Linked DNA regions of Homo sapiens: region 1 is linked to region 2. Evidence: fine-mapped expression QTL. Tissue or cell type: testis. Region 2 holds a variant in brackets; the other region holds the start of a gene. All regions are shown on one strand. Distances are between the middles of the regions.

Region 1 (4,328 bases), 100 kb after region 2:
AATGGTAGTTGGCCCATGTGGTCCTCAGGCCTGAGCTGCTCTCTACCAAAGCAATCTACACATATCCATCCCTTCCTTCCCCCATGCAGTGCAGCTTGTACCTCCAGGACCTGACCCAGGAGGAGCTCAGTAAATATTTGATCAAGTGACTGATAGCAGCGATAACACTCCACGGGACACGTTCACAAACACCCTCTTCCCCCAGCCCTGTTAGGTAGGTATAATTACTACCACTCTGCAGATGAGGAAACTGATGCCCAGAGAGATGAACAGTTTTGCTTGGGTGTGGGGTTGCACAGCCAGTGAATATGTGGGGGAGTTGAGATTGGAATTTAAGTGTGACTCCCCATGCTGGGTTCTCCCTGGACAGCTGCCACAGCCAGGGGAGCCTCCTTGCCAGGGCATGAATGGAAGAAGGGGGCCAGTTGGACAAGGAGTGATGCCCTGGGGTGAGGGCCAGCCAGCTGTGTTCACAGGTAGATTGCATGGCAGACATCTCCTGACACCCAGCCCCAAGAAGGCTTCCTTGAAACACACAGTGAGGTTCTTGGTTCTTGAGATGTCCTGGGAGCTGAGAGCCCCAGGTTTGGGGCCTGGATCTGGCACCAACTCTCAGTGTAACCACAAGCAGTCCATCCCTTCTTGGGGCTCAGCTGACTTCACTAAAGAGGGAATATGAGTAAGATGCCTAAGATGTGGAAGCAGAGGTCCTAATTCCTGGACAGGGGCAGAAGTGGGTAGTGGCCTCGGCAAACAAATCCCCTATTTGCCTCCTTTAAGCAGGATCCCCCTACCAGGCAGTGTGTGATGGTGAGGCCCAAGCCTGGGGTCTGACGTCGACACCCCTGTGGGCATTTGGCCAAAGGCAGCCATCTGCCAGAATCTGAGAGCTGCTCTCAGACCTCGCTGGAGAGGGCTACCTGGGGCAGTCTGAGTCTCTCTGGGCAGACTGAGGTCCTTTGCTACCCAAACGGGGAGAATTAGAGATACTGTTGGCTCCTGGGCACTGGAAGGGAGGAACGCAGGCCTCTCAGCACAGGGCTGGGCCAACAAGTTGGGGGTCCCGGCACAGGGGACAACGGAGAAGTGCCAACATTGGGACCCAATTATGTGATACTGGGGCCCAGAGATAGTACAGGTGCCTCATACCACGTGGCCCTGGGTGGACAGCAGGAATCTATTGCGAGTGGCGGGAGGCCGGGGCTGCCTGTCCTGCGCCCTGAAGCTGGCCAGCGGTTGTGGAAACTGGGGGATATTGAGGGAACCGTAGGCCCAGGTCCTCAGCCTCATAGTGTGGAACCTGGCGATCCCAGGGCCTGGGCTGGCCCCCGGCGTCACGGGACCGGGAAGGCGCTGTGGTGCTGCGGGGAATTGCGGAGAAGAAGGCGGGCTCCAGTGGAGGTGGCTCATCCCCGCACGGTCACTGCCCTCGCCCGCTGTTGGGGTCCGCGGCTGGGAGACTGAAGGCCTCAAGTCGGGCTGGGTAGGGGCACGTGGGCAGGGAAAGGGGTGGTAGATTACCAGTCTTCAGGGGCGGGGCTGGAGATGCAACCCTAGGGAAGGAGTCTACCAGGCTGGGCTCTTGAGGGGCAATGGAGGGCTCCGGGGGCCAGGCCAGGCCAGGATCATGGAGTTCAAAGGACTGGAGTGAGGTTTGGGGTCCATGAGAGTGGAGCTCAGAGGATGGGACGGTGGGTCCAGGATTTGGGACCTGGGGCTGGAAAGTCCGAGGCTAGTGGAGACCAGGCCTGGTATCCCAGACGAAAGGGCCCTATAGGAAACGGGGTCTCGTGGGCGGGATCTGGAGCCAGAGAATTGTGAGAGGCGGAGCTAGGATGGAGAAGGCGAGAGGAAAGGGGTAGCCGCCGGCGCGGAGACCTCAATGCGGGGCGTGGTGCGGAGGGGGAACTGGAGCGAGGGGCACTGGAGCGAGGGGGTGGGGCTACGAGGAGGTGGACTTGAGGGGCTGGGTCTGGGGCCGGAGAATCGTGGGGAGCTGCGCCTATACACCCGGGACGGTGGGGTTGCGTCGGGGAAGTGGGAGTCTTGGGGGTTCGCTGGGCAGCCTGGAGAACAGGCGGTCGTGGTGCGGGCGGGGCCGAAAAGACCGAGGACAGTGGGGACCCGGCCTGAGGAGGGGTCGGGAAGGAGGGGTGGGGGCGCGCGGACGCAGATCCCGGGCCGCGGCGGGGCGGTGGCAGGCTCCAGAGTGGCACGGGCCCAGGTGAGCGAGGTCTCCGCCCGCCGCCCCTCCCGCCGCCCCGGTGCCAGCTGCCCCGCTGGCCCCTCCCTGTACCCGGCGCTTGCTCCGCGGGCCGGGCCGACGGCGGCGGGCGGCGTCTCGCGCCCAGGCCAGGTCGGCTCTGGCTCCATCTTGGGCCGCGGCACCTGGCACCTGTGGCGGCCGCAGGAGCAGCGCTTCCCCCGCCTGCGCGGCCCCGGCGGGCGAGAGGGTGAGAGGCTGGCTCCGCGCGCTCCCGTTGGGGCGGGGGGCGTGGTGGGCGGCACCTCCCCCTTGCTGAGCCTCAGAACCCACTCCTTCCCGCTGCCTGCGCTCAGACCCCCGGCATCCTGGCCCCTGCCCAGCGCCCAGAGCCCCCGGTGGCCGCATCGCACTCCCCGCGCTCCGCCTCTCATTGTCCTGTCCTGTCCCCTCTTCTACGTCTCCTCTGCCCATCCTCCCATTTTCACAAGTCTGTCCGGGACCCTGTCTCCTTCGGCCTCCACCCCTGCTGCCATCGCTCCTCCCTCTCCCCTTCTTCCTTTTCCCCTCCCTCAGCCTACTGCGCCGCCTACCCCGCCCCCAGCCTTGCTGCCCTTTGGCTTCTCCTGTCCCGCATCATTACCCCGGCCCACAGCCCCATTTGCCTGCAGTCGCTGCCTTTGCTCCTGAGAAGGTCTGTAGCCTCGTTTCGGGCCCGTATTGAGCCCCCTTCTCCCTAAGTCCGGGTGGGCTTTGTGCAGGAGGGGCGGGAGGGGAGCTATTCTGGGCGAGGCTGCGTGGTGCGGTGCTTTCAGGCCTTTGGCCCCGCAGCAGGGGCGGCCTGTGCTTGGCGTGCAGAGTGCAGCTGGGTAGACGCTGTTACTGCATACGGGCCTGTGTGTCCCAGGCTGGGGCATGAGTGCTTGTGAGCGTGCAGATAGGGACACACCGGCCGCCTAGGCTGCTTCTAGGCCGGGGCACCCTCTCCACCTAGGTGCCCCCCAGGGATTGTGGGCAAATCCTCCCCAGGGGAGGAAGCTCAGGGGCTGTTGGGCGCCTAGGCCTCTTCCTGGTGAGCAGAGCCTCATCCATGGGGCCACTGACCCCACAGTTACCCCAGAACCCTTTCCTGGCACAGCTTGTGACCCGGGGCATGTAGCCCTTAAGGCACGTTCATTGTGAAGGGCAGGTTTTGTCTCCTCCAAACCCTCCCTTTAGGAATGCTGCCTGCTGCTTTGCCCAGAGTTGGCCCTGAGTGTTCCTATCAGGCCCCGTTCACTCTGGGGTGGATTAAACCACCTCCTGGAGGGTGCTGTATCCCCACTGTGCAATGGGGGTTTGTGCTGTGTGCATTCCTGCCTGGTCCTTGAGAGGTAAGGTCCATATTTTAACATAGAACCAGTTTTCCTGCCTGATCATATAGGTTTGCTTTTCCTGTTTTGGTTTTGCCGGACACATAAGTCATCATCCAAATGCTTGCCACTTAACTAGAGGGGACTTGGGCCAGGCGCTGTGGCTCATGCCTGTAATCCCAGCACTTTGGGAGGCCGAGGCAGGTGGATCACCTAAGGTCAGGAGTTCGAGACCAGCCTGGCCAACATGGCGAAAACCCCATCTCTACTAAAAATACAAAAATTAGCTGGGCGCCGAGGTGCACGCCTGTAATCCCAGCTGCCGGGAGACTAAGACAAGAGAATCACGTGAACCCAGGAGGCAGAGGTTGCAGTGAGCCGAGACTGAGCCATTGTACTCGAGCCTGGGAGACAGAGCGAGACTCTGTCTCACAAACAAACGAACGAACAAAACCAAGAGGGGACTTAGATGGATGCCACAGTGTTGTCTGAGATGGAGCCCACTTGTGGTGGTCTTGGTAGTCCCCTGGGCATATCCCAAAGGCCTGGGCTCCTCTGCTGTGGCAGCATGGCGGGAGCTGGACTCTGTACGTTGACTCAAAGGTCTCTATGTTTGGGCTAGTCTGGAAGTGTCTGAGAACTGGGGGCTTTTACTCAAAATGACATTGGTTGATTGCTACATAGGTGGTTGATCTTCCAGTTGCTGACAGGTGGAACCTGAGGCAGCAGGACAGCCTGGCATTGGCCACGGGACATCGGCCACAACCATAGCA
Region 2 (4,328 bases):
GTGGAGAAAAGTGGTCAAACCCTGAATGAACGTTAAAGATAGGACCAAAAGGATTTGATGAGAAATTGGAAGTAGAGCACAGGGAAAAAGAAAGATATCAGTGATGATGCCAAGGTTTTTGGCCTGGGGAATTGGGATAGTGGAGTTGTTATTTGCTGAGTATGACTTTTCACAAAGGAATGTCAAGGCATAAGTAGCAAAGTTCTTTTTTTTTTTTTTTTAATTTTTCTTGATTGTGTTTGTTTTGTTTTTCATCTTTTGTGGGAGGTGGGTGGAGATGAAAGCAAGCACAGGGGTTGGCAGGCATACCCCTGGCACCTACCTGTGAGTTCATGATTACTAGTTTTAAAGTTCAGTCCTTTTTATTTTTACTTTTTTTTTTTTTTTTTTTTTTTTAGAGACAGTGTCTCACTCTGTCATCCAGGCTGGAGTGCAGTGGCACAATCACGGCTTACTGTAGCCTTGATCTCCCAGGCTCAGGTGATCCTTTCACTTCAGCCTCCTGAGTAGCTGGGACTACAGGCACATACCACCCTACCCAGCAATTTTTTTAAAAAATTTTTTGTAGCGACATAGTCTTACCATGTTGCCTAGACTGGTCTCGAACTACTGAGCTGAAGCAACCTGTCTGCCTCAGCCTCCCAAAGTAAAGTACTGTAATTACAAGCTTGAGCCACCGTGCGTGGCCAAATTCTGGCCTTTTGATGTTGCATGGTGTGGATGGGGAGGCAAAGTGTGATATTTTAGGAATTTGAGGATTTCTTCTTCGACCTTAGGCGTGACATTGGACAAATGACATCTGGGCTGAGACATTTTCTAGTAATGCTGGATCCAAAAAACTCTTATCCCATTGTCTCATAGCTTCATTACACAGACCTGGCGGCCATGATCCTCTTTTTTTCCCCCTTAGTTGCCAAACATGGGTTCTCTGTCTTACCTCATTTGAGTCTTACCTCAGTCTTGAGAGTCTCAAATGTGTATCATAGTTTTTAGACAAAATTCAACCTTATTTCAATTAGTATTTCATTGTTATTTAAATATTTTAACAGGAAAACTGAGCAATGTTTCCCTTTACCTGTTAATCCTGTTATAATATTTTAGATAAAGTGTATTAGAAGGCACATTCTTCATTAATAGAATATTTATTCATGTGTTTATATGGTTCTTAACTAGGAATACCATATAGTCTATCTCCAACCCTTTGAGAAGGAAAAAAGATCCTGACTAAACAGGACACCAGAAGGGCATGCCTAAACTAGGACTGTTCTGGGCAAATCAGAAGGCATGTTCACCTTATTCTTTTTATTCTTTCTTTTTCTTTTTTTTTTTTTTTTTGTGACGGAGTCTCGCTCTGTCGCCCAGGCTGGAGTACAGTGACACGATCTTGGCTCACTGCAACCTCCACCTCCCAGGTTCAAGCGATTCTCCTGCCTCAGCCTCCTGAGTAGCTGGGACTACAGGCACATGCCACCATGCCTGGCAAATTTTTTGTGTTTTTAGTAGAGACGGGGGTTTTGTCGTGTTAGCCAGGATGGTCTTGAACTCCTGACCTCATGACCTGTCCACTTCGGCCTCCCAAAGTGGTGGGATTATAGGCATGACCCACTGCACCTGGCCTCACCCTATTCCTAAGGCCAGAAAACCAGCTAGAGTAAAGTTCACTTTCTGTTTGAGTGCTTGGACTTTATTGGGAGAAGGCAAATGCCCTGGAACAAGAGTGAAAGGGAGAAATTCCCGTTGTATTGCAAGCCAGAATAAGAGAGGCTCACCCACACTGGCCTAAGGCATCTCAGTTGTTGATGAGAATGTGATTACAGATGTCTCACATGAATACCAAAGACAATTGCAAAGGAAATTAAAAGTTATGCAAAGAGAGTCGAGAAGTCAGTTGTCTGCTCACAGGTTGGCTTTAGTGGCTATTACTTTGAGATACTAAATGAGCGATAGCTTTAAACTTCAACTGCTTTTGTTTCTGAGGAAAAAAATCATCTTATATCCTTTCATAAGTCGCATAAAAAGTGGACATTTTCTATTATTTTAAAGAGTAAATTTAGGTACAAGCATTTACTAATTTTTTTTTTTTTTTTTTTTTTTTTTTGAGATGGAGTCTGGCTTTGTTGCCCAGGCTGGAATGCAGTGGCGCAATCTTGGCTCACTGCAAGCTCCGCCTCCCTGGTTCACGCCATGCTCCTGCCTCAGCCTCCAGAGTAGCTGGGACTACAGGCGCCCGCCACCACGCCCAGCTAATTTTTTGTATTTTTAGTAGAGACGGGGTTTCACCCTTTTAGCCAGGATGG[T/C]CTCGATCTCCTGACTTCGTGATCTGCCCGCCTCAGCCTCCCAAAGTGCTGGGATTGATTACAGGCGTGAGCCACTGCTCCCGGCCTGTAATTCTTTTTTTTTTTGAGACGGAGCCTCGCTCTGTTGCCCAGGCTGGAGTGCAGTGGCGTGATCTTGGTTCACTGCAAGCTCCGCCTCCCGGGTTCACGCCATTCTTCTGCCTCAGCCTCCCGAGTAGCTGGGACTACAGGGGCCCACCACCACGCTCGGCTAATTTTTTGTATTTTTTAGTGGAGACGGGGTTTCACCGTGTTAGTCAGGATGGCCTCGATCTCCTGACCTCGTGATCCGCCCGCCTCAGCCTCCCAACATTTAGTAATTCTTAAAAGAGTTCAGCATGAATATACACAGTACGTGGGTTATTAGTACTGTGTTGTTAACACAAATGAACTATGATAGCAAATTGAATTTGGTTCAATCAGGTCAAAGAATAAAAGGATGATTTTCTTTAACCACCAGCAAAGGATAGTATAATGAACCCCATGCAACTATCACTTAACTTCAATAATTTCAAGTTTGAGTAAGTTGCAGAGTAGTAATTTGAACCCACATCTCTCTTGTTCCAAATCCCTTGCTTTTAATTACAATCCCATGTGGCTTCTTTGTCATTTGATGCTATTGAGCAACTTTATGATTTTTTTGGTGTTTTTGGTAAAATAGACATGAAAAGGCATTACTACAGGGAGTTTTTTCACTCCCTGGTAATAAGAGGGGAAAAGCACTCTCTTTTAATGATACATGTTTTGTAATAAGCATTTTTTTTAGTTGCAGTGTTCTGCAAAGACAAAACCTGCTGATACAGTTCATCCTGTTTTAGAAATCTTTGACCCATTCATCAGACTCTGACCACTCTAAAGATAAAGGATTATGGTTGTATTGGTTTTTCCGACTGAAGCGGCCTTCTGCAGATTGAGAAATTGTATAATTATTAACTGCGGTAATGGAGATGTACTTGCAAGTTTCATCTGGTATCTTAATGACCTTTAACCCTCTGAGTACACCTAAAACATATCCTAGAATTATTGAAATTAATCAGTTGTCCATAACTTTTCTGTCTGTATAATTTGGCTATCATACGTATTTTGTTTCCCCCTGCCCTTGCCAGTTTCCATCCTCCTACTCACATACTCACAACTCCTATAAATTGGAGTATTTAGTAGCAGTAGCCTTTGGTATAAACACTTTTTAAAAATTTACTATTTTTTGAATTAATAGGGCCACTTTCTAGTCAAGTTTTTTTTTTTTTGGGGGGGGGGTAAGGAGGGTAGGGTAACAGTTCCACACTTACAAGGGTATTTGTTTAGACCAAGCTTGTTCAACCCACAGCCTGTGGGGCTGCATGTGGTCCAGGATGGCTTTAAATGCAACTCAACATGAGTTTGTAAACTTTCTTAAAACATTATGAGTTTTTTTTGAGAATTTTTTTGAGACAGAGTCTCGCTCTGTTGTCCAGGCTGGAGTGCAGTGGCCCGATCTTGGCTCACTGCAACCTCCACCTCCTGGGTTCAAGCGATTCTCCTGCCTCAGCCTCTGGCGTAGCTGGGATTACAGGTGTGTGCCACCACTCCAAGCTAATTTTTGTATTTTTAGTAGAGACGGGGTTTTACCATGTTGGCCAGGCTGGTCTCAAACTCCTGACCTCAAGTGATCTGCCCACCTCGGCCTCCCAAAGTGCTGGGATTATAAGCATGAGCCACCGCGCCCAGCCTGCGATTTTTTTTTTTAAGCTCATTAGCTATCATTAGTGTTAACTGTATTTTATGTGTGGCCCAAGACAATTCTCCTTCTTCCGTTGTGGCCCAGGGAAGCCAAAAGATTAGACACCCCTGATTTAGACAAATAAGTGAAGGCACACTGAAATAACAGTTATATATAATAACCTTGTGCCACCCAGCGCGGTGGCTCATGCCTCTAATCTCAGCACTTTGGGAGGCTGAGGCGGGCGGATCAGCTGAGGTTGGGAGTTCAAGACCAGCCTGACTTACATGGAG

The links. PIP is the estimated chance that this variant, and not a neighbour inherited with it, causes the effect.
Region 1: GPRIN2 starts here. The variant in region 2 is fine-mapped to the expression of GPRIN2 in testis (GTEx, PIP 0.99).

What each region holds. Positions count from the first base shown.
Region 1 is chr10:46,554,623-46,558,950 of GRCh38, reverse strand. GPRIN2 (G protein regulated inducer of neurite outgrowth 2) reads left to right here and starts at 2,293. Exons shown (of 3, transcript NM_001385282.1): 1 at 2,293-2,453; 2 at 4,256-4,328. RefSeq lists enhancers at 846-1,551, 2,257-2,962.
Region 2 is chr10:46,656,516-46,660,843 of GRCh38, reverse strand. No RefSeq gene overlaps it. Among named protein-coding and RNA genes, the nearest start is that of LINC02637, 29 kb to the right of the region's middle. The variant T/C (reference allele first, on the strand shown) is at 2,298.